Homo sapiens: one gene and its partners. The protein of the gene in region 1 purifies or fractionates together with the protein of each later gene. This does not show direct contact. Each region holds a gene or a part of one and is shown in the gene's direction. Other genes may lie near its edges.

The links.
Region 2: the proteins of ANAPC4 (region 1) and FAM91A1 purify together in Homo sapiens (affinity purification with mass spectrometry, with the first as the bait; one large-scale study listed by BioGRID). This does not show direct contact.
Region 3: the proteins of ANAPC4 (region 1) and DEPDC1B purify together in Homo sapiens (affinity purification with mass spectrometry; one large-scale study listed by BioGRID and IntAct). This does not show direct contact.
Region 4: the proteins of ANAPC4 (region 1) and NUP35 purify together in Homo sapiens (affinity purification with mass spectrometry, with the first as the bait; one large-scale study listed by BioGRID). This does not show direct contact.
Region 5: the proteins of ANAPC4 (region 1) and DHCR24 purify together in Homo sapiens (affinity purification with mass spectrometry, with the first as the bait; one large-scale study listed by BioGRID). This does not show direct contact.
Region 6: the proteins of ANAPC4 (region 1) and MXI1 purify together in Homo sapiens (affinity purification with western blotting, with the first as the bait; one study listed by BioGRID). This does not show direct contact.
Region 7: the proteins of ANAPC4 (region 1) and KLHL7 purify together in Homo sapiens (affinity purification with mass spectrometry; one large-scale study listed by BioGRID and IntAct). This does not show direct contact.

Annotation. Positions count from the first base shown.
Region 1 is NC_000004.12:25,408,263-25,411,762, forward strand, and holds part of ANAPC4 (anaphase-promoting complex subunit 4), read left to right. Parts: intron 1-1,435; coding exon 1,436-1,529; intron 1,530-3,500. UniProt on the Homo sapiens protein: Component of the anaphase promoting complex/cyclosome (APC/C), a cell cycle-regulated E3 ubiquitin ligase that controls progression through mitosis and the G1 phase of the cell cycle.
Region 2 is NC_000008.11:123,785,439-123,788,938, forward strand, and holds part of FAM91A1 (protein FAM91A1), read left to right. Parts: intron 1-190; coding exon 191-303; intron 304-1,056; coding exon 1,057-1,172; intron 1,173-1,822; coding exon 1,823-1,935; intron 1,936-2,225; coding exon 2,226-2,312; intron 2,313-2,762; coding exon of another isoform or gene 2,763-2,795; exon of another isoform or gene 2,796-2,809; intron 2,810-3,500. UniProt on the Homo sapiens protein: As component of the WDR11 complex acts together with TBC1D23 to facilitate the golgin-mediated capture of vesicles generated using AP-1.
Region 3 is NC_000005.10:60,602,667-60,606,166, reverse strand, and holds part of DEPDC1B (DEP domain-containing protein 1B), read left to right. Parts: intron 1-310; coding exon 311-477; intron 478-2,599; coding exon 2,600-2,776; intron 2,777-3,500.
Region 4 is NC_000002.12:183,151,943-183,155,442, forward strand, and holds part of NUP35 (nucleoporin NUP35), read left to right. Parts: intron 1-3,500. UniProt on the Homo sapiens protein: Functions as a component of the nuclear pore complex (NPC).
Region 5 is NC_000001.11:54,870,196-54,873,695, reverse strand, and holds part of DHCR24 (delta(24)-sterol reductase precursor), read left to right. Parts: intron 1-2,082; coding exon 2,083-2,346; intron 2,347-3,500. UniProt on the Homo sapiens protein: Catalyzes the reduction of the delta-24 double bond of sterol intermediates during cholesterol biosynthesis.
Region 6 is NC_000010.11:110,284,105-110,287,604, forward strand, and holds the end of MXI1 (max-interacting protein 1), read left to right. Parts: intron 1-719; coding exon 720-883; 3' UTR 884-3,261; downstream 3,262-3,500. UniProt on the Homo sapiens protein: Transcriptional repressor. MXI1 binds with MAX to form a sequence-specific DNA-binding protein complex which recognizes the core sequence 5'-CAC[GA]TG-3'. MXI1 thus antagonizes MYC transcriptional activity by competing for MAX.
Region 7 is NC_000007.14:23,164,785-23,168,284, forward strand, and holds part of KLHL7 (kelch-like protein 7), read left to right. Parts: intron 1-913; coding exon 914-1,154; intron 1,155-3,051; coding exon 3,052-3,253; intron 3,254-3,500. UniProt on the Homo sapiens protein: Substrate-specific adapter of a BCR (BTB-CUL3-RBX1) E3 ubiquitin ligase complex. The BCR(KLHL7) complex acts by mediating ubiquitination and subsequent degradation of substrate proteins. Probably mediates 'Lys-48'-linked ubiquitination.

The DNA of each region.
Region 1 (3,500 bases):
AATCTAAAATTGCATCAGTGAACGTTTTTTACATTAAAATTCATTCATCTTCTTGCACTTTGAACGGATCTTTTGTCCACGCATAATTTTGTAACATCCTGCTTTGGTCATTTGGGAAGTATTGGTTCCCTGAGTCATCCAGCTGTTCTAAATGCCGCCACCTTTTATCAAACTATAAGCTAGATTTCATTAATAGCACCACCAATTTAATCAGAAAAGTCTTTGTGTTGTGAAGCACACAGGGGCAGATGCAGGTTTTCCAAAAAAAAAAAAAATTTTTTTTTTTTTGAGACAAGATATTTCCTCTGAGTAGTACAGTGGTGCAATCACAGCTTACTGCAGCCTCCACCTCTCGGACTCGCCTCTTGTAGCTGGGGCTACAAGCACACACCACCATGCCTGGCTAATTTTTGTCTTTATTTTGTGGAGACCTGCCATGTTGCCCAGGCTGGTCTTGAGCTCCTGGGCTCAAGTGATACGCCTGCCATGGCCTCCTAAAGTGCGGGGATTACAGGCATGAACCACCGTGCCCAGCCTATTTTTGCTTTTAACATAAGTGCTTTTCCTCAAGATAACCATCATACTTTGTGTAGCAAAAGTTCCTATGTATAACTCTCAATTCTGTCACACAGAATATTAAAGATTCGTACTCAAGGGTTGAAAATAAAGTTAATAATTTAATGACTTCATTAAAGATAAATGAAACTATGAGTATGTGGCAGAAAAAGAATACAGTGACTGCTGGTATGATTTGGGACTACTACCTTGACTCTTGGCTGAGACACTTACAGCTTTCCCCACCATCAGTACAAATGTTAGCATAGTGTAAAGGGCAGGTGACAGCTACATTATTATAAAACTAGTATTGACTTTGTGGATCCCCAAAAGCATCTTGGGGATTCCCAGGGGCTTGTGGATCTCACTTGAAGAACAACTGCCATAGAGTATATTGACAGTACATTGACAATGGATACTTATGAAACTAATTTATAACTTGCATATGTTAAATTAAAATATGCTCATGAAAAAGAAACACAATTTAAGTTCGATTTGTGATCTCTACATCTACAACATAATAATCTTTTAATACTTTGTGGTTTGTTTAGTTGCTTGACTAAACAAACTACCAACTGTTCAGCAGTTTCTTTAATTTTTAAGATAGTAGCTAGCTAACATTTATGGAGGGCTTAATTCTGCCACATACACATAGCAGATTTTGGCTACCTCACTTAGAATGATAGTAATGCACTTTCAGAGGACTTGGCAATAAAACAAAGTAACTTATTAAGTTAAAAAAGTGTTAAAAATAAACCGATTTTAGGCCCTAAGTCTTTGATTTACTAAACTTAACTTTTTTTTGTCTTTTACTTTTTTTCTTTTTCCATTTTCCCTTCCAGGTATGAATAAACTTAAATTTCTAATTCTGTATTTCTAGTACTTGAAAGATGAAGATGATGATCTTGTGTCACCCCCTAACACAGAAGGAAACCAGTGGTATGACTTTCTTCAAAATAGCAGCCACCTTAAAGGTACTTCATGAACCAACCAGATTTTGGCCATTTTTGTTTTTATTTAAGACTAGGTCTTGAATAGTTCTGCTAACAGTTTTGCTGAAAACTTGCTGAACACTTACCTAAGTTTATTAGACTTATATTTATTTGATTATAGGAACAGCAAAATAACCAATAGTGTATGACATCACCATGATAGATAGAAGACACTCTGAAGTTAACTACGCTGTAGGAAGATTGCTTATTCCTAAGTGTTCTCATATAAGTGTTTTGCACCCTGTAAAAAATAGGATTTTGAGGGAAACTATAGAGCCAAATAGTGAGAAAAGTCTTTTTTGCCAATTCCAATTTATTATCTTCTGAAAGCACAGGGATGCTCAACTGTATTCTCCTCGGGTTGTAGTTGGTGTGTGTGTGTGTGCATGTGTACTTGTTATACCTTTCATTTTCTAGAATGTCAGAATGTTAATACCGTAAAGCTATCCAGCATTATTAGGGATGCAGCACATAATAGCAACCATTAAATATGCCAGCACATCTTACCATTTTAGATGAAAATATTTTAAAGCTCGTATTTCTTTGATGTCTGAAAGAATAATCTGACCAGATTTAGCAATTGCTTAGATCTTTAAGGTAGTGGGTGCTTAGTCTAACTAAACATTTATGGGGTGCTTAGTCTGCCATATACACACAATACCTGCTTTAATCCTCACAAGATTCTATGGGTAGGTACTTGGTATCACCATTTACTAATGAGGAAACAGAAGGTTAGAGAAGCCCAGGATCACACAAGCTGGTTAGTGATGGAGCTAGGATTCTGTTAATGTGAAAGCCTGAGGTTTTAACTAGACTGGCAGTACAGGTTGAGCATCTTAATCCAAAAATCTGAAATCTTAAAATGCTCCAAAATCTAAAACTTTTTGAGCACCGACATGACACCACTAGTGGAAAATTCCATACCTGACCTCATATGATGGGTCCCAGTCAAAATGCAGTCAAGACTTTGTTTCAAGCACAAAATTATTAAATATATTGTATAAGATGTACATGAAGCATAAATGAATTTCGTGTTTAGACTTGAGTTCCATCCCCAAGATATCTCATTATGTATATGCACATATTCCAAATTCCAAAAAAATCCCAAACACTTACAGACCCAAGCATTTTGGGTAAGTGAAACTCAACCTATAGCAATTTCTGCCACTTGTATTTGGTTGCTGCTTCTGTGAATGAATGAATGAATGAATGAATGAATGAGGGAGAGAATTCTTTGATGCCAAGAACTTTGCATATAGTCCAAATTCTTTTTCAAGGCAGAACCTATTATGTATTGCCAGAGAGTCTTGAGGTCAGTAAGGAGATGCATTGGTGCAAGTTGGCTATTGAATGGAGGGAGGATAAAGGTACAGGAGACGCTACTTATTTACTGTATTTAATCAGGATGCCCAGGGAATAAGGCAGGATGTCTGGAGAGGGTCAGTGGCAGTGCGTCAAGAGTAGTGGCACCTGGACCCTGTTGCTATTTTGGCTATTATTGATCCAGGGAACTTTGCCAGGCTAAAAATAGGTCCTGTCCTCTTTTATTTGCCCCACATCTTACGTGTTTGAATAAGAAAGGCCTGATCTTAGCTACAGACCTAATGGAACTCACTATTGAGTTCCATAATGAATTCTAGTGAGGAAATATCAGTGAAACTGTTTTCTTACACTGCAAAAATCAAGTGCTAAATACTTGATCTGTGTACTTTCTTTAGGGTACATGGGTCAGTATTGTGTGGTGGGTAAAAGTTGGTGCTCTGAAAGCTGGATTTTCTGGGTTGGAAGCTGCTCTACTACTTCGTAGTAACACGGCTGAGAGCAAGTTGCCTAACCTCTCTGTGCCATAGTTTCTCATCTGTAAAATGAAGATGGTAATAATGCTGCCCTCAAAAAACTGGTGTGGAGATTAAATAAATTAATCTACATAAGCACTTAGACTAATGCCTGGCA
Region 2 (3,500 bases), on another chromosome or scaffold:
TTGGAAACATTCCCTCCTATACATTTATGAAGACTTCAAGGGAGGAGCAGGTCTACTGAAAATAGTTTCTGGTTACGGGATGAAAATGTTTGAGAATCACTATTAGTCTATTACACTATTTTTTCTCTACAAATATTGTGATGTCTAGTTTATTTTAAATGGTAATTAGTTTCCTTTATATTCCTTTCAGAATGCTGTTTCAATGTATTGCCGATTGGGCTTTGCCCATAAGAAGGGACAAGTAATTAATTTGGATCAACTTCATTCATCATGGAAGAATGTTCCATCCGTAAACAGATTAAAGTAACTTAAATTTATTCAGTATGAGCTATTAGAGTTTCCTTTTGAAAAGACATTTAATTTTACATACATAAATTTATTTATTTATTTATTTATTGAGACAAAGTCTCTCTCTGTCATCCAGGCTGGAGTGCGGTGGCGCGATCTCGGCTCACTGCAACCTCCACCTCCCCGTTTCAAGCGATTTTCATGCCTCAGCCTCCTGAGTAGTGGGGACTATAGGTGTGCACCACCATGCCCAGCTAATTTTTTGTGTTTCTGTTAGAGGTGGGGTTTCACCATGTTAGCCAGGCTGGTGTCGAACTCCTGGCCCCAACTGATCCACCCACCTTGGCCTTCCAAAGTGTTGGGATTGCAGGTGTGAGCCACTGCACCTGGCCCAGAAATTTTATTTATTCAACCTGTCAGTTGAGGTGAGCCCTTTATATTAGTGATTTTTAATCTTGTGTGTGTGTTACAGATCTTTTTTGGAATATAATGAAAACTAAGAAGGCTTTTCCCAGAAAAAAAGCAAATAAATATTTTACATAAAATCTTGAAGGGTTCTTGAATTTTCTGAAGCCTATCCGTGGATCTTAGTTAAGAACCCTTGTTGTATGTAGGCAGAGCATTTTTGGGCTGCGACTTAATTTTGGGCTTGAATATAAGACTGAATTTTGATGGATTGTTCATAATTTAAGTCTTAACTTCAGTAGATATTTTAATGTAAGGTCATTTATATGATTTTTAAAAAGCAAATGCATTCTTCATTAATAGGAGTACCTTAGATCCACAGAAGATGCTCTTGTCATGGGATGGAGGGGAAAGTAGGAGTCCTGTACAAGAAGCTTCATCGGCAACTGACACTGATACAAATAGTCAAGAAGATCCAGGTTAGCAGTAACTCAGTTTAACATAGAGTCTGTCTGTAGGTACGGCACATGTCCAAACATACACTCTTACAGTTACCTTCTAATTTTAGTTTAGATTTTATTCAATACGCAGTCTTTGAGTGTTTTACTATATTTTGGGCACTGTGCTAAGTCCTAGGTATATAAAACTGACAAGAATATGGTACCTTTCTTCTAAGAATTAAGTCTAAGGAGAGAGAAGGGAATGTGACCAAACAAATTACAACAACACGGGCACCAATTATAATGCTTGTAGGGTGCAAAGAGGAAGAGACCCTTAATTGGCTAGAGAGGTTTGGGAAGCCTTCACAGAGAAGATGTTATTTGAGCTAAGAATGAAGAAGAGCCTGCCAGCTGGTCAGGGAAGGAAAGCCATTTCAGCCCGAGAGAATAGTGAGGCTAAGCCCAAAGGGAAACACAGCATAGTGGACAAGGCCTAGGGTTAAATGCTTTTTAATATTCTTTGCGCTTCAAAATAGGTATGGCTGGAACTTCTTATGGCTATAATAGTGCCTTTTTAAAATTATGTACTTTCTGGTTATCAAATAAAGCTGAAATGAAATACTTTCACTCCAAATGGTAAGCAAAGAATAATTTCCATTTACTTGATTTTAAATTATGGTGTTTTTCAGCTGACACAGCCAGTGTAAGCAGCCTGAGTCTGTCTACAGGACACACGAAGCGCATCGCATTCCTGTTTGACTCCACTCTTACTGCCTTCTTAATGATGGGAAATCTTTCACCAGTAAGCCCAATTCTTGTTTAAATATGAAGGTGTTTAAAATAAATACTAGATATAAAATAATTTAATGCTTTTATATCTTTTTTAAAGTACTACATTTATTCCCGAAGCACAACTGACTTAGAGGAGTATAATAACTTTCAGGGAAGGTCCTTTTGTAATTGGAAGAATTAGCCCCTCACCCCCCAATCCTTAAGTTTAAATATATTTGAAAGGATAATATAAATATTTGATAGTATGCTTAGCATAAAAAGGGAGAAGTAGAACTTTAATATTTTGTTTCTTTTTTTCAGAACTTGAAAAGTCATGCAGTCACAATGTTTGAAGTAGGCAAACTCTCAGATGAGTCTCTGGACAGCTTTCTTATAGAACTAGAAAAGGTAAATGTAGATTGCATGTAAGGGGATGTTAGGGCATTTGGAATCTGTCCTTGCTTGACAGAATGCCAATTATACAGTCTGTTGATTTGGATGGGCTTTCAGTGTATTCTTGCTCGTTCCTACCTCATTCCCCAAATTAGTACTCTTACAGTCATTTAGACTTAAACATATTGAGTGGGTGAATTGATTTTGTGATTTTTAAAGTGATATGTCTACCTCATCTAATTCTTAACATAATTTGAGATAATGAAGAAATGGGGTATAGAAATTTTAGTCTGTAATGTTTTAAGTTGAATTTTTGCTAAAATAGCCTTTCAATTTTTTTTCTGGTATGACTCTCTAAGATCACCTCTTAAGCAGTTTGATTTGAAGTTTTTGTTCCATTTACCTTGAATCTGGAACAATATCCCTGGGTATCATATTTATGTCCGCTCTCACTATCCCTTTTAGCATCTTGAAGACTTCAGCCATATTTGCTCTTAACCACCTTTTTCCCCGTGAGTACAGCCCTAGTTTTCCTTAGCTCTAAATAAATCTGATTGCCCTTTATTGGTGTTTTTCATTCTTCGGATATTTTATTCTGGCCTCTTTGTATTCAAATAGTTTGTGTGCCTAATCTGTTCCTTGACTAATACTTTTCGTGCCTTTTGTGCTTTATGATGAACTTTGTATTTTCAATGCACTGTTTAGAGAATTTGTGGTGATTCTGCAACTCCTTTATATCTTAAAAAAAAAAGACTGTAACATTTTTCACTGCTCCTACTCCATAGGATTTTTACTTTTATTAGTGCAGAAATATGTGTGAGATAATCCTTTGCTATTAATTGGTCTCTTTTACTTTTACCTTTATACTGCCATTTATTTCTTCATGCTTCTTTATTTGTTAACCCCATTTCTTATTGTATATTATCTTCTACTAATAAATTTCTTACTATGTTACTGCACATTTCAAGTTCTGGTTTTCTGATTTTTATCTTTTTTTCACCTCAGCTAGTCTTTTATCAAATGTAGCAAATTGCAAGTTGACTTCTGCTCTTTTACTCATAAATCTATGTTCTTTTTCATCACAAAGTCATTCTTGGGAAAGCCTTTCAGTCTGAGGCTTAGTTTTTAAAGTGGATTCTTAGCTATTTTTTAAGTAGTTTGATCTTAAGATTGATTTCTTAAATGTATGCAAATCTGATTTAG
Region 3 (3,500 bases), on another chromosome or scaffold:
TGATAGTGTTAGCCTGGCTGCTCCTGGTTCGGGAAAGAGTGCTATGAAAATTGAGATATATCTGTCTAGTGTATGGGAGGAGAAAATGGCTGTATTTGGTTCTATATATTTGTCATGCCTGGTTGATGGTTTGTATTTTCTATAGTGATTTGTGAGTGACAATGGATCTATATTCAATTGACCCAGTATAGTTGAATATGTGAAAATATTTTATGTAATTTTACTAATATATATTTTGTTAAAATACAACCATATAGAATCTACTAGGCTATAGGTGTTGAAAGATAACATTTTTTTTTTTCTAAATCAGGTTTGTTACAGAAGGAGAAAGTGGCAGTTGAAGCATTTCAGATTTGCTGCCTTCTCCTACCTCCTGAAAATAGGAGAAAGTTACAGCTATTGATGAGGATGATGGCAAGGATTTGCTTAAACAAAGAGATGCCACCCCTGTGTGATGGCTTTGGTACCCGAACACTGGTAGGTTGATTTTTAACATCAGGTATGACTTTTTGGAATGAAAGTCGACTGAGTAAGGTGTATTAGTTTGGGTGATCAGAGGGAAGTACAAAGCAGACTTGCTTAAAAGAGCCACAGTCAGTGTCCACCCAGACTTGTGTCGTGCTTTTGTTCTAAGTGTCTTAAAGAACATAATGAGAAATGGAGACTTGAGTAGGGGCAGACTCTGTAGAGAGATCTGCTACATCCTGTTCTCCCACTTAAAATTATTTTAAATTTATTCTTAATTGACAACTAATAATTGCATATGTGATGTTTTAATTCATGTATACATTATAGAGTCAATCAAGCTAATTAACAGATTCATTACCATACCAACTTATCATTTTTTTGTAATGAGATCATTAAAAATCTATTCTTTTCTCAATTTTGAAATATACAATATATTATTATAATTGTCGTCACCGTGCTGTGCACTAGAGCATTAAGACTTGATCCTCCTGTCTCACTGGATCTTTGTACCCTTTGACCAACATCTATTTCCATGTCCCTGTATCCCCCAGCCTGTGGTACCTACCATCTAATCTCTGCTTCTATTGGCATATGTTTTTAAAGAGAGTTTATTTTAGAATTTACTTACTAGCAAAATCTCTTGATTTTCCTCAAAAAATGTCTTTGAGCAAAACTGGTGCTTCAGTGGAATGTATGTGCTTTCCATATCCTGTTAAAACACCGTGTACTCCCTGGGGATTCACTGGCCCAGTTTTAGAAGTAATAGAGTGAGATCAGAGGAGCACTTAGTGCCCAGTAGGATTCTTGATCTCTATATTTTTTTGGAGTGAGTGGATGGTTAGAGAGGCTAATAGACCTTTTTGAAAAGCTGAAGAAAACTTTATATCTATTCTGCATATAAAATACACATGCAAAACTTTGCATGCAGTTTCAAGGCGATCACAGAGTCCCTGGGGTCCATGGTCTCCAGGCAAAAAATTCTCTGCCTGTGTGTCTCTCTGTACATGTAAATGTAAGTGAAGATCATTTGCAGTGTGTTAATGAAGTGTTACTAAGCAGAATTACATGATTTTTTGCTTAAAGATTTTGAAGGAAGATTGTCAGCGATAAAAGTAGTAGGAAAAAACAAAACAAAACAAAAGCCAGTCCAAAGAACAGTATTAAGAATGGAGTAGTTAGGCTGGGCGTGGTGGCTCACTCCTGTAATCCCAGCACTTTGGGAGGCCGAGGCAGGTGGATCACCTGAGGTCAGGAGTTCTAGACCAGCCTGACCAACATGGTGAAACCCCGTCTCTATTAAAATTACAAAAATTAGCTGGGCATGGTGGCAGGCGCCTGTAATCCCAGCTACTCGGGAGGCTGGGGCAGGAGAATTGCTTGAACCTGGGAGGCGGAGGTTACAGTGAGCCAAGATCACACCATTGCACTCCAGCATAGGTTACAGAGCGAGACTCCGTAAAAAAAAAAAAAAAAAAAAAAAGAATAGTTAATTTCAATTCTATGGAAATTATTACATTGATGCTATAATATATTTTGCATTTCTGCTTGCCTCAAAGAGAGTCTCATCACTTAATGTACTTCTTGAAAAGTCCCATGGCTTTGTTCAAAGATGATTGTCAAATATACATCGAAAATCCTAGAGAAAATAAGCTAACTAGGAAAAGATGTAATGGTTGAGGCATGTGGACTGTGTTAGCGGTTTAAAACAAATCAATAATGAAATTAGGATAAATAATAATTGACTAAATGGCTATAAAGTGCTTTGAACTTAGTAGTGCTACATGATTCAAGTCATGGTGATAATGATTTTCAAAATTTGTTTTCATATATTTATATGTGTGTATGTGTGTGTATATATATATATATATATATGTATATTTAAAATCGTGTAAAAGGAGGTTTAAAAATTGCTCAGATAAGCATCTCTCTGCAGTCTCTTAACAGGAAGATGCACATTTTGTTTGTTCTGGTTGTTGAGACCGTCAACCCATCTGAGATGGCTGGGTACTCTTGGTAGAATATGCACCCTGTGCCTTAGACCATTTCTCATATTTGCCTTTTGCAAATTAGATTGCACTCAGTTCAGAAAAATACTCATCTGCGTTTACCCCCCACCCCGCTCTTTTTTTAGATGGTTCAGACATTTTCCCGTTGCATCTTGTGTTCCAAGGATGAAGTGGACTTGGATGAGTTATTAGCTGCTAGATTGGTAACGTTTCTGATGGACAATTACCAGGAAATTCTGAAAGTCCCTTTGGCCTTGCAGACCTCTATAGAGGAGCGTGTGGCTCATCTACGAAGAGTCCAGGTAAAGGAGAGGATATTATCAGTTCTATGAAATTGGCAATATAAAGTCACGTAAGCTTGCTAGGCTTCTTGGGGCATTTTATTATGAGGATTAAGTGAATTAATGTTTATAAAGTACTTACAACAGGTCTTGGCACATAGTAATCCCCTGCATGTGTTTGTATTATCATTGAAAAGTTTACAGAATGCACATTTGGTTTTGTGTATCAATCCATGTGGCATATTTTTTATTGCTAATTCCTTGAATGAGTTTGTTTAGAATCTACATACACCTACTGATGGAAATGATTTTATGTGCAGTAAGTGTCTTGATTCATAATTGCCCTGTGACCTAGTTTAATATTCCCACTTTTTGCATGAAAAAGCTAAGGCACAAAGAACTTAAATAACTTCGCTTAAGGCCACAGAGCCAGAATTCTGACTGTTGCAGTCAGCCTCTGTAATCAGTGCTCTAAACTATCATTCCATATTGCCTGTCTAAAAATCATAGTACAGTAGAAGAACACTGGCATGAGAGCCATGAATCCCTGGCCAAATTCCTAGCTGTATCCTTTCTGTCGTGTGACTCTGGGCAAGTCCCTTAACCGCTTTGGATTTTACTTTCTTTCCTCAGGCGTTAAAATGGGCTATTCTTTCTTTATAAAGTTGTGAAGATTAGAACACTGTACTTTACAATTCCTAGGATGAATTTCTGACATATGTCAGGTATTCTTTGAAAGGTAGCT
Region 4 (3,500 bases), on another chromosome or scaffold:
CATTTGTCTGTTTATTTCTTCCCAAATTATTTTCTCTCAAGCATATTTACTAGATGGAACACAGTTGTCCCTTTAGACTTAGGGAACTCCTTCCCCTTTTTCTAGTGACTGGTTCTCTACATCTAGTGGAATTCACCAGTTTTGAATTAACAGAATGAACATTTACAAACACACACACACACACACACACACACACACACACACACACACACAATGTCACAGGGTTGATACTTTCTGGTCCACAAAGTATTGAATATTAATAGAAACAGTATGACAGTCCTTGTTACATTTTTGAATAGATTTTTAGGTCCAAAAAAAACTTTAAAATGCCTTTTTTTAAAAAAAATGCTTTTTTATTTCCATAGGTTTTTGGGGAACAGGTGGTATTTGGTTACATGAGTAAGTTCTTTACATGATTCGTGAGACTTTGGGGCACCCATCTCCTGAGCAGTAGGCACTGAACCCAATTTGTAGTCTTTATCCGTCACCCCTTTCCCACCCTTTCCCCCGAGTCCCCAAAGTCCATTGCATCATTCTTATGCTTTTGCATCATCATAGCTTAGCTCCCACTTATGAGTGAGAACATATGATGTTTGGTTTTCCATTCCTAAGTTACTTCACTTAGAATAAGTGAGTTACTTTACTTAGAATAATTTGCAGTCCCATTCAGGTTGCTGCAAATGCCATTAATTAATTCCTTTTTACTGCTGAGTATTCCATTTTGTATGTATATATATCTATCACAGTAAAACTCCTTAGAGATCATATTGTATAATGTTTTATTTTACAGGTGAGGAAACTGAGGTGTAGGCAGATTAAGTGATTTATTCAGCCGTTCACATCTAGTTATTATTAGCAAAGCTCCAGCAAAAACTTGGGTCTTTTGATATTCAAGCTGATATTTACACTCTACAAAAATATAAAGTTTGTTTCTGAAAGTATGATTTGCCATACTGTATTAGTCCCTATTCATACTGATAAAGACATATCCGAGACTGGAAAGAAAAAGAGGTTTAATTGGACTTAGGGTTCCATGGCTGGACAGGCCTCAGAATCATGGTGGGAGGTGAAAGGCACTTCTTACATGACGGTGTCAAGAGAAAATGAGGAAGAAGCAAAAGCGGAAGCCCCTGATAAACCCATCAGATCTCGTGAGACTTATTCATTATCATGAGAATAGCACAGGAAAGACTGGCCCCCATGAATCAATTACCTCTCCCTGGGTTCCTCCCACAACACATGGGAATTCCGGGAGATATAATTTGAGTTGAGATGTGGGTGGAGACACAGCCAAACCATTTCATTTCATCCTTGGCCCCTCTAAATCTCATGTCCTCACGTTTCAAAACCAATCATGGTTTCCCAACACACCCCTGAAAGTCTTATTTCAGCATTAACCCAAAAGTCCACAGTCCCAAGTCTCATCTGAGTTAAGGCAAGTCCCTTCCACCTATGAGCCTGTAAAATCAAAAGCAAGATAGTTATTTCCTGGATACAGTGGGGTTATAGGAATTGGGTAAATACAGCCATTCCAAATGGGAGAAATTGGCCAAAACAGAGGGGTTATAGGCCCCATGCAAGTTCAAAATCCAGAGGGGCAGTCAAATTTTAAAGCTCCAAAATGATCTCCTTTGACTTCCTGGTCTCACATCCAGGTCACGCTGATGCAAGAGGTGGGTTCCCATGGTCTTGGGCAGCTCCACCCCTGTGGCTTTGCAGGGTACAGCCTCCCTCCTGGCTGTTTTCCCGTGCTGGCATTGCGTGTATGGGTTTTCCAGGCACAGAGTGCAAGCTGTCAGTGGATCTACCATTCTGGGGACTGGAGGATGGTGGCCCTCTTCTCACAGCCCCACTAGGCAGTGCCCTAGTAGGGACCCTGTGTGGGAGCTTTGACCCCACAGTTCCCTTCCGCACTGCCCTAGCGGAGGTTCTCCATGAGGGCCCCACCCCTGCAGCACAATTTTGCCTGGGCATCCAGGTATTTCCATACATCTTCTGAAATCTAGGTGAAGGTTCCCAAACCTCAATTCTTGACTTCTGTGCACCCACAGGCTCAATACCATGTGGAAGCTGCCAAGGCTTGGGGCTTCCACTCTCTGAAGCCACAGCCCAGGCTCTACATTGTCCCCTTTCAGCCACGGCTGCAGGGGCTGGGATACAGGGCACCAAGTCCCTAGGCTGCACACAGCACAGGGACCCTGGGCCTGGACCACAAAACCGCTTTTTCCTCCTGGGCCTCCAGGCCTATGATGGGATTGGCTGTCTTGAAGGGCTCTGACATGCCCTAGAGACATTTTCCCCATGCTCTTGGGCATTAACATTAGGCTCCTTTCTAGCTATGCAAATTTCTGCAGCTAGCTTGAATTTCTCCTCAGAAAATGAGTTTTCCTTTTCTACTGCGTTGTCAGGCTGCAAATTTTCTGAACTTTTATGCTGTGTTTCCCCTTTAAAATGGAAGGCTTTTAATAGCACTCAAGTCACCTTTTGAATGCTTTGCTGCTTAGAAATTTCTTCCACCAGATACCTTAAATCATCTCTTTCAAGTTCAAAGTTCCACAAATCTCTAGGGTGGGGCAAAATGCCACCAGTCTCTTTGCTAAAACATAACAAGAGTCACCTTTGCTCCAGTCGCCAACAAGTTCCTCATCTCCATCTGAGACCACCTCAGCTTGGAACTTATTGTTCATATCACTATCAGCATTTTTGTCAAAGCCATTCAACAAGTCTCTGGGAGGTTCCAAACTTCCCACATTTTCTTCTGAGCTTTCCAAACTGTTCCAACCTCTGCCTATTAGCCAGTTCCAATGTCACTTCCACATTTTTGGGTATCTTTTCAGCAATGCCCCACTCTACTGATACCAATTACTGTATTAGTCCATTTTCATGCTGCTGATAAAGACATACCTGAGACAGGGAAGAAAAAGAGGTTTAATTGGACTTACAGTTCCACATGGCTGGGGAGGCCTCAGAATCATGGCGGGAGGCAAAAGGTACTTACATAGTGACATCAAGAGAAAATGAGGAAGCAAAAGCGGAAGCCCCTGATAAACGCGTCAGATCTTGTGAGACTTACTCACTATCATGAGAATAGCATAGGAAAGACCAGCCACCATGATTCAATTACCTCTCTCAGGTCCCTCTCACAACACATGGGAATTCTGGGAGATACCATTCAAGTTGAGATTTGGTTGGAGACACAGCTGAACTGTATCACATGCTGATACTGGAATGTATCTATTATATATTTTTTGGGATTAAAAAACATAAAAATAACACATGAGCTCCTTGAAGGAAGAAAGGTGCATAGTAAATGTTTAGTGGATTTTATGTATTCAATTTATTTAAAATTAAAAATTCAAAAGGTATGTAAGAATGTACAATGAAGTTTTCCCTTTTGCTTTTGTCCCAAGCTAGTTTTCCTCCTCTTTAAGGCAGTGATTGCCATCTGTTTTTTGTGTATGTTTCCAGAGAGATTTTATGTGTTATTGATTTCTATTTGG
Region 5 (3,500 bases), on another chromosome or scaffold:
CCTGGGTGACAGAGCAAGACCCTGTCTCAAAGAAAAAAGGTCAAGACATAAACGCATGTTAGTTTAGGCCTACACAGAGTCAAGATTATCAATAACGCTTCCACTTCCGCATCTTGTCCCACTGGAAAGTCTTCAGGGGCAATAACACACATGGAGCTGTCATCTCTGACAACAATGCCTTCTTCTGGAATACCTCCTGAAGGACCTGCCTGATGCTGTTTACAGTTAACTTTTTTTTAATAAGCAGAAAGAGTACACTCTAAAATAACAATTAAAAGTGTAGTGTAGTGAATACATAAACCAATGACAGAGTCATTTATCATTATCAAGTATTATGTAGTGTACATAATTATATGTGCTATACTTTTATACAACTGGCAGTACAGTAGGTTTGCTTACACCAGTGTTACCATAAACACATGAGTATGACATTAGGATAGCTGTGATAGCAGTGATACCACTAGGCAACAGGACTTTTTCAGCTCCATTATAATCTTATGAGACCACCATTTTATCTGTGGCCCATTGTTGACTGCAACGTCTTTATGTAGCACGTAATCGTGTAAGTAAAAGTGATTAGAGAGGATGTTTTAGAAAAATAAGAAACACTTCTACCACCCAAACTGGGATTCAAACATTTAAAGCGTTTTACCTAAGGGGTGGGATAGGAGTGACACTTTAAATAACCTTGGATCTGTCCTGGCAGGTGTGAGGGACCCCTGGGATGGGAGGGACAGTTGGTCCTGTTGAAGTGGGTATTTCAGGGAGCCACCCGACTCCTTCACTTCACAGAAGAGGGCCCAAGGAAAGACTCCCAGCTTGGCAGCACTGGTCTTGGATGAGAGATACCCCTAGCAAGATTCACATCAATTCATCCTGCTTTCCTGAACGCTTGCGGGGCCCTGTCTTTTGACCTATTTATTATCGGCAGAGAAAGGAGACTGACATTTGTGAATTCTTTCCCTTCTCTGAGGCCCAGGTTCCTCACTGACAAATATGTGGTTGAGAGGAATAAGTAGGTCCTGTATGGGAAGCTCCTTGCATAGAGCTCAGCATGCAGCAAGTGTGTCATCTTCACTGCCATGGCCAGGAGAATGTGATTAGCTGTGGGCCCAAGGGGGAATTGGTGAGCGTAGTGCTGCTGTTCCTGAGGTTTCTGCCAGCCTGCTGCAGAGCCTCCTTGCTCCAGCTCTCCTGCCCTGCTGCATTCACTGTGCCCACCACCAAGAGCATTCAGGTTTTGTGGAGACTGCACAGGGCTGTCCTCTTAGTAAAGGCAAGACATGGCTGGACTTTTTCAAAAGAGCTTTCTTTACTAGAACTGAAGAATCCCAATCAGAATGGCCAAGGAAAAGTCAGTTGTCTGTGTCCAAGACAAATGTCAAAACAATAAAATGATGAGGTTGGACATTGATTTATGGAAGCAGATGAGGTGTTGTAGGAAAAACGCTGGCCGGGGAGTTAGGTGGTCTTGCCTGAGCCCTGGCATTGCTGCAGCTGACTTTTCTGGGAAGACTTTGGTGAGTCATGGCAGCTCTGAGAGACTCAGTTTCTTTACTTGTCATAAGGGGGTGCTAGCGCTCTCCCTGGGCTCTGTCGGGGGTGGATCCCACAAGCCGATGGACTGGGAAAGGCCTTGTAAATTTTAGTAATGGTTCAGAAGGGAGGCATTTTAATGTTCCCCAGCTACACTGCCTGACACCCACTAAAGGGTGTCAAGGCCTGGCCTTGGACTCCTGCCCTTGTGCAATGCCCCTGCCATTGTGGGTCGTTGGGCAGCAGTGCCAGTCCCAGCTTTTTCCTGAATAGCCTCTGGGTCAGGGGCTGTACCTAGATGGGAGAAGGAGGATGCTCTCTCAGTGAGGGTCCCTGAGACAGAGGGCAGTATTAGGTTCCATGTCATGTCGAAGCTGCAGGGAGGAAACTAAAGCCCAGCAAGCACAGTTTGTAAAGCTCATTGTTTGGGTTTATACAAGAGAGTGAGAGAATAGGGACTCTCCCAGGCTTTGCTCCCCCACTGACTGCATGCCACAATGTGGGGCCCAAGGTTTCAGCTCACAACACATCAATTCTGTCTCACAGTCCGAAAACTCAGACCTGTTCTATGCCGTACCCTGGTCCTGTGGGACGCTGGGTTTCCTGGTGGCCGCTGAGATCCGCATCATCCCTGCCAAGAAGTACGTCAAGCTGCGTTTCGAGCCAGTGCGGGGCCTGGAGGCTATCTGTGCCAAGTTCACCCACGAGTCCCAGCGGCAGGAGAACCACTTCGTGGAAGGGCTGCTCTACTCCCTGGATGAGGCTGTCATTATGACAGGGGTCATGACAGATGAGGCAGAGCCCAGCAAGGTAAGCCAGGGTGTCAGCTGCTGCTGACCAAGACTGGGGAGGCATGAGTGTGCTAGGACTGAGCCGGTTCCCGTATCCTGACCCTGGCAGCCACCTCTTCAAGGCTGCTGCCTGGGTCAACCCACCTGGGGTACAGGCAACAGGATCTATCATCAGAAATGTATTAGACAGTGATGGAAGCTTTCATCTACTCTGCCCCTACCACCTGCCTGGGATGTGCTTGTCTCTTAGTGGATGTAATCTTTGGTCCTTATAGCAAACCCATTTTATAGATGAGGAAACTGAGTCTTCAAGAGGTAATGTAGGCTGGGCACAGTGGCTCACACCTGTAATCCCAACACTTAAAAGAGGTAATGTAAACTTCCACAAGATTCGAGTAATCGATTTGATGCCTTGGAATCTAGATTGACATTCCTTCCACATATACCATGCAATTTTTATTAGCAGTTTTTTCTCCATTTAGAAAGGATTTGTGCTTATTGTAAGAGACTTGGAAAGGATTTGTGCTTATTGTAAGAGACTTGGAAGGTACAAACAAGTAAAAAGGAAAGAAAAGACTCCACCTGTAAATATGTCCCAAAGCCAGTGTTGCTAATGTGTTTGGTACACAGTTGGCCCCTTGTATCTGTGGGTTCCACAACAGTGGATTCAACCAACTGCAGATTGAAAGCGTTCAGGGGCCAAAAAACGGATGGTTTCATCTGAAATGAACATGGACAGACTTTTTTTCTTGTCATTATTCCTTAACTGTTACATAGCATTTACATTGTATTAAGTATTGTGAGAAATCTAGAGATGATTTAAAGTATACAGGAGGATGTGCATAGGGTTATATGCAAATACTAAATCATTTTATGTAAGGGACTTGAGCATTCATGGATTTTGGGGGATCCTGGAACAAATCCCCCATGGATACTGAGAGACAACTGTATTTATTTCCTCTTTCTCTGTATGGATTTTTTTGAAAGTTTTTAAATTATAAAAGTAATGTAACAATGCTGAAATATATAAAGAAAAAGTTAAAGTGCATCTCTTTACGCCAGGGTGTAACCACTTACGTATAACAGTTTTGTGTGCATTCTTCGAGACCTATTTATTTTTATTTATTTATTTTCTTATTGTTTTTTTTTTTGAGACAGGGTCTCTGTAGCCCA
Region 6 (3,500 bases), on another chromosome or scaffold:
GATAGCTGAGTCAAATATGTATTTGTGGTGTTTTTTTTTTTTAATGTTTGGCTTTTAAGTCTGTATACTACCACCAAAATGGATCTCACTATAATCTGAAGACTTTTAAGTCTCAGGCCCTTATTTCAAGCTATATTTGATGCAAGAAAATTAAATCTAAGACATATACCTCAAACTCTACTTTATAATGACTTGTTTGACTGACTAGTTGAAGATCTTTATGATGAATCCTAGAAGTCTGTTGAACTATCTGTAGAATGGCACCACCAAAGGCTTGGATGGGTAAATTTTCTAGTTTGCCTATATTAAGTTTATGCTCCTGCCCACCCTTTAAGGCAACCCTGATTAATAAACAGAACTGAGAATTAGTTTGTGGTTTAATGCAAAACAGATGTTTTTAAACCACTTGGGGGTTGGGACCTTTTAATATTAAGCACTAATTCCCAAATACGCCAAGTGCTTTAGGGAGGTCCAGACGGACTGGCGTCAAAGGATTTAGGAAATTTGCTGCCTAAATTAAGACCACCACTGTATATCAGACATTCCCCTTGGCAAAAAATATTCCTGTCTCTTCACCTTGTTCCTCTGTTCTCCAGACATCACTGATAATAAGCTTGTTGTGTAACATTTCTTATACCTCTTTTCCTCATGCTGTTAGTTTTTGAAGGTGCGCTATACTCGATAATTAATGTTCTTCTTTTTTTTTTTTCCTTTGGCAGAGGAGATTGAAGTGGATGTTGAAAGCACAGAGTTCTCCCATGGAGAAGTGGACAATATAAGTACCACCAGCATCAGTGACATTGATGACCACAGCAGCCTGCCGAGTATTGGGAGTGACGAGGGTTACTCCAGTGCCAGTGTCAAACTTTCATTCACTTCATAGAACCCAGCATGACATAACAGTGCAGGGCAAAATATTCACTGGGCCAATTCAATACAAACAATCTCTTAAATTGGGTTCATGATGCAGTCTCCTCTTTAAAACAAAACAAAACAAAACAAAACTATACTTGAACAAAAGGGTCAGAGGACCTGTATTTAAGCAAATACTTAGCAAAAAGTGGGGCAGAGCCTCCCAAGGAGAACAAATATTCAGAATATTCATATTGGAAAAATCACAATTTTTAATGGCAGCAGAAAACTTGTGTGAAATTTTCTTGATTTGAGTTGATTGAGAAGAGGACATTGGAGATGCCATCCTCTTTCTCTTTTCTAGTTTGCTCATACTACATTGAGTAGACACATTTAAGGATGGGGTTATGAACCCTTCCTGAGCTTTATGGTCCTAAAAGCAAAATAAAAACTATTCGAATGAAAAGACAAGAAAATCAGGTATTAATCTTGGATAGCTAATAATGAGCTATTAAAACTCAGCCTGGGACAGTTTATCATGAAGCCTGTGGATGATCAATCCTTTATTATTATTTTTTTTTTTTGAAAAAAGCTCATTTCATGCTCTGCAAAAGGAGAGACTCCCATGAAGCCTTTTGAAAGGGATCATCATGCAGCTCAACTTTCTGTTGGATTCCATGCTAAGCAAGCTAACCTTATCCTGCATTGTTAGCACTAGGCACCCAGCTGCCACCTCTCCATCCTGCTGCCCTTAGGCCACATGGGAGCAGTCCATGCATGACAGCCTCTATCCTACAAGGCCTATGAGTATGGATTGGGGGGGCCAAAAGGAAAAAGCTCCATGTGCCTCTTTGTCTGCGTGGGTCAGAAGAGTTGTGCACGCAGATTAGCAGGCCAAGGTCTGAGCCACAGCAGCATTTTTATTTCAGATTTTGATAACTGTTTATATGTGTTGAAAACCAAAATGACATCTTTTTAAAGCTTATCCATAAAAAAAAATAGATGTCTTTTATAGTGGAAAAACACATGGGGAAAAAAATCATCTATTTTGATGCAGCATTTGATAATGATAAAACACCTCACACCTCACTCTTTATAGTGCACAAAATGAATGAGGTCTGGGCTAGGTAGAAAAAGGGTCAATGCTATTTTTGTTTTTAGAATCATTACCTTTTACCAGCTTTTAACCATCTGATATCTATAGTAGACACACTATCATAGTTAACATAGTAAGTTCAGCACTTGTCTCATTTTAATGTAAAGATTTGCTTCCATTTTCCTACAGGCAGTCTCTCTCTTCCTCACAGTCCCACTGTGCAGGTGCTATTGTTACTCTTACGAATATTTTCAGTAATGTTATTTTCTTCTAAGTGAAATTTCTAGCCTGCACTTTGATGTCATGTGTTCCCTTTGTCTTTCAAACTCCAAGGTTCCCTTGTGGCCCTCTCCCTTACCCTGGGAAGGCCTCTTGGAGACCTTACCCCTGGCTGTTTGGACTTTGTATACTTTAAATAATTTAACTACCCTTAATTACTTAAAAAAAAAAAAAAGCTTTATGATTTTCATAACTTATTGCTGATTTTAATGGATTGTTAATTTCAGTCCTGTAGTTTTATTTTATGTTTAGATAGGGCTGGGCAAGGAAAAAGAAAATAAAGACAACCATATTTAGCAGTGCAGTTGAGTTGTGTGTTAATGTTAGACTATCCCTTTGTGAGTGACACTTTAACAGCATTCACTGCTTCTATATATAGTGTACCATCTTGGTCATACATTACGCCTCAACATATACTTGTGCTCTTCCTTTGCCTCCAGAAGAAGTTTTTCCTTGATTGTGCTATGTTTCAGTGGAAGAAATTCTTTGAAGTAGATGTGAGTGAAAAACTGCATGCCTTTAGAAGCCCAGTATCAGAACTTGCTACGTTTCAGGTGCTAGGGACTTAATGAAAAACAGGACAAAACAATTCCTTTTTGTGGCCCAGGTAAATTATTTCTGGTTTCACTTATAATTACTAATGGCTGAGTCAAGATGTTGTCTCTGTGTTTGCTTACTCTTGATCAAGTGTGAGACAGTTTGAAGACTGTGCTACCATACAAAGTGAATGAAGCCAGTGACTAAGCTTCTGTTTGTTTTGTTATTCTCATGGCCTTCGCTTGCATTATTTGGGCCTTCATTCAGATGAACTTGAGGTGCCATTTTGTTGCATATGTACAGGATTATGGGCTGGAAAGCATTTGTTATAAACCTATAGTGCACATTTTAACTGCCCCCTAAATTACCCTTCCCTGGGTTTGTTTTCCTTGGGGTGGTGTAGATTGTATGAGTAAGAAGTATTAATTTTTTAAAAGACAAATCAACTTTGAAGACACAAAAGTTAATTGGAAGAAATAAAAACTGTGAACGAAGAATACCTTTCTTTTTGTACCATCCTTCTTTATGAAGGCAAAAACATGAATGGGTATCCACACCTTAAGAGGTAACTATCTCCTAAATGTCTGTTGATACCAAATCAGTATCAATGCCAAATCAAATGGCAGTTTGAATTATAATTGCCATTCCTGTTCTGCAATTTAAACAGGAGCCTGACTGGTAACTCCATATAACCTAACTGCATGTGGTTTAATGTGCCACATTAATAATAATATTA
Region 7 (3,500 bases), on another chromosome or scaffold:
GGTTATCAGTCAGATTTTCTCGAAGGAAACTCAATAATCACACATAGTGCTTTCCTTGGTGAGATTGGGAATGGTATGAATTCCTATCTGACCCTGATTATTTTCAGAAAATAGCAGGAACGCTGTAGCTTCCTATCTCAAAAAAAGAGAGGGTCCAAGATACTATAACTTTAGGGGCATCCCCCCATGCACATACATGGAAGGGCGGCACAAGCATTCTTCGATGCTATCAAACATAGTGAAGAAACAGATGCTGTGAACAGCCCTTACTGTCAAGTACTGATAGGTGTGTATTTCTAATCATTGGGGTGAAAAGTGAGTATCCAGAGTACTTAGAAGAGATTACTCAAGTATTTCCTTATAAACATCAACAGTTTTAAAGTCCAGCTGACTACATTGGCTCAACTCAATATAGAAAATTAATAAAGAAGTCCACAAAATACCTTCTGGCTTTAGACTATCAGTAGGATAATGGCAATTTGAGCTTCATATTATCCATTGATTACTTATATCACACTATATATCTGGCAGGGAAGGGATGGAGACCTTTACATTTGAAAAAGCTTTTTTAAAAAATAAAACAACTTATTTTAGAATCTTCTTGTATTGTCTTCAATAACAGAAGGAATAGAAGACAGGGTGGTGATGGTATATCCAAATATATTTAAGTTTATTTTAGAGCCAGAAAGGACCCAAAGCAGTCATGTGCCTGCCTTTTGCCCTCCGCCCCATCTAATCAACATTCTGCAGAAACCACACAAGATTAAATTGGTAATAGTCTCAAGCCAAACATTTGTATGTGTAGTCTAATAAATTAACATATTCTTATATGTTTTTTGACTGTATCTTTGCATTGTCCTTTTCAGTTATATTTTTTTCCTTACTGAAAGCTTCCCATCCTTTTCTGCTACAGGATTATAGCTGGACAGACATCCGCTGCCCCTTTGAAAAACGAAGAGATGCAGCATGCGTGTTTTGGGACAATGTAGTATACATTTTGGGAGGCTCTCAGCTTTTCCCAATAAAGCGAATGGACTGCTATAATGTAGTGAAGGATAGCTGGTATTCGAAACTGGGTCCTCCGACACCTCGAGACAGCCTTGCTGCATGTGCTGCAGAAGGCAAAATTTATACATCTGGAGGTTCAGAAGTAGGTAAGGACTTCTTAAGTATTTTGGTTTGGGGCATATGCTTTAAAGCCAAGTATCTTGGCTTTCATATTTAAATAAACAGCTGGTATTATTTGTCCAGATACTTTCTTGGTAATTTAAATATGTGTTTGTCACATTTTAGAGCTCATCTCCCTGAAGGTTTATGTCGTTGCTTTACAAACCATTAAATTACAGAACTTTAGCTTCCTAGATTAATGGCCCATTTTTTTTATCATAATGAAGCATTAGTTGACATTATCTGAATTATAGTTCTAAATTATTTGGGCTGCATAATATTATTTGTTTTAAAGATTTCAGAGTTCAACTTATAGACTCTTTAAGAACTCGTTACTATATTCAGGCTTTTAAAATTTGTATTATATTTGCTTTCTTTTTATTAGAAAAAAGAATGCTCTTTTTCATTTGTTTTATTCTTTAAGTTTTTAATGACTGTAGTGGTATTTATGCTTATTGAGCAGAATGGGATGTGGGTGTGGATATAAAAACCTTATTGGATAGTGTGTTAGTGTCCAGTAGTGCTCTTTTTCTAAATGAATAATTTTTCTAAATGAATAGGTGCAGGCTAGATACATAATAGCTTTTGTATGCTTTCATTTTCAAGTAATTTCTTTAGCTTAAATAATGGGCTAATAAAGAAAACTAGGGAGACCGTAAATGGTTATACTTTTGGTCTGCATACTTATGTTTTTACCCTCAACTATATGTCAAATGAATACAAGAAAAATCACTATTTCCTAAATGTAACCATTTCCTCTCTTTAAAAGCATTCTTCACAGACTGTTATAATGTAGAATATTTCAAATACAATAAATCCTAAAGATGATAGACGGTAACTGTTCTGTGGTACTGCAGATAACTTCATTTCTTCAGCCTTTGCTAAGTGTGTTTTTAGCTTAAGTAGTAGTTTTTTTTTAATCTACTATATACTATATATTTTCCTATAGTGTCCACCCACTGAACCTACCAAATCAGGAATGTTTAAAAAGTTAAAAATAAGTTATTTTTGGTCATGACCATTGCTTCTTCTAGTTGTTATTTTCTGATCTTTACTTTTCACAGACCTTAGTTGCAACGCAGAATTATAAAGGTGTTGTCGTTTTTAAATCATTTGATATTAGCCCAGAATGGTGGGAGATGAGAAATAGTTTGGTAACTTCTAAAATTTTTTGTCCTTGGGAAGGAAAAAAAAAAGCACTTAAACTTTAATAGTATCATTTCTAAAATTTTTTATTGAACTCCTACAGTGTGTAGAAGTTTCAAAACATGATGAATGTATGTTTTGCCTTTAAATTGTGTAATCAAAATACATCAGAAATATACATCAATATTTTGAGAATATACTCAAGCAGGGACCAGTGTGATTTCAGGATATACCACACTAACTGAGAATAGTTAGGAAATATAATTTTGTTAATGGTGCTGTAGCTATTCCAGAATATTAAATAAGAATATGATCAGATAGTAGTTTTCATATTTTAAGGTATGGGTCTACCATCTGTAAGGAACTATTATGCTTTTCCACTTTATATAAACATTTGAAGTATGGATAATTCCCGTCATGCATAATGGGGCTTGAAGACATATATAAGGCTTCTTATTTAATTTTTCTTTTGAAATCAAATTTATTTTTCTAAAGTTTAATTACCAATAAATAAGTATTTCCAACAGATCCTTTTAAGGATGTTTTCCAGGGTCTATACAAACAGGATTATTAGCGTTTTCTTAAACTATTCCTACACTTTGTTGTTGTTGATTGAGTATGAAAATGGCCGTATGACCCTAAATTCTTCCTTCCTTAACTAATAAGATCTACAGTCAGTTCTTTCCAAACCCCCGCACACACTAAAGTTAAGCATGATGGGGCCTTTTTCTTTTACAGGAAACTCAGCTCTGTATTTATTTGAGTGCTATGATACGAGAACTGAAAGCTGGCACACAAAGCCCAGCATGCTGACCCAGCGCTGCAGCCATGGGATGGTGGAAGCCAATGGCCTAATCTATGTTTGTGGTGGAAGTTTAGGAAACAATGTTTCTGGGAGAGTGCTTAATTCCTGTGAAGTTTATGATCCTGCCACAGAAACGTATGTATCTATTTAAAATTTATTTTACAGTTAACTGTATTCTATAAGCTCTGTAGGAGATGTCAAAAGACCAGAGGAACCCAACAGAAGAATTTTGTCCTTGAGTGAAGAGTGTATATAAACTTTTGAGTGTGCTAGGGTCAGTGGCATATTTATGACCTGGACCTTTCCCTTACACCAGAAATGGCTTGAACTTACACCCCATGGGAACCTCTTTCTTTCTGGTTCTGCGTGCAATAAATGCCTA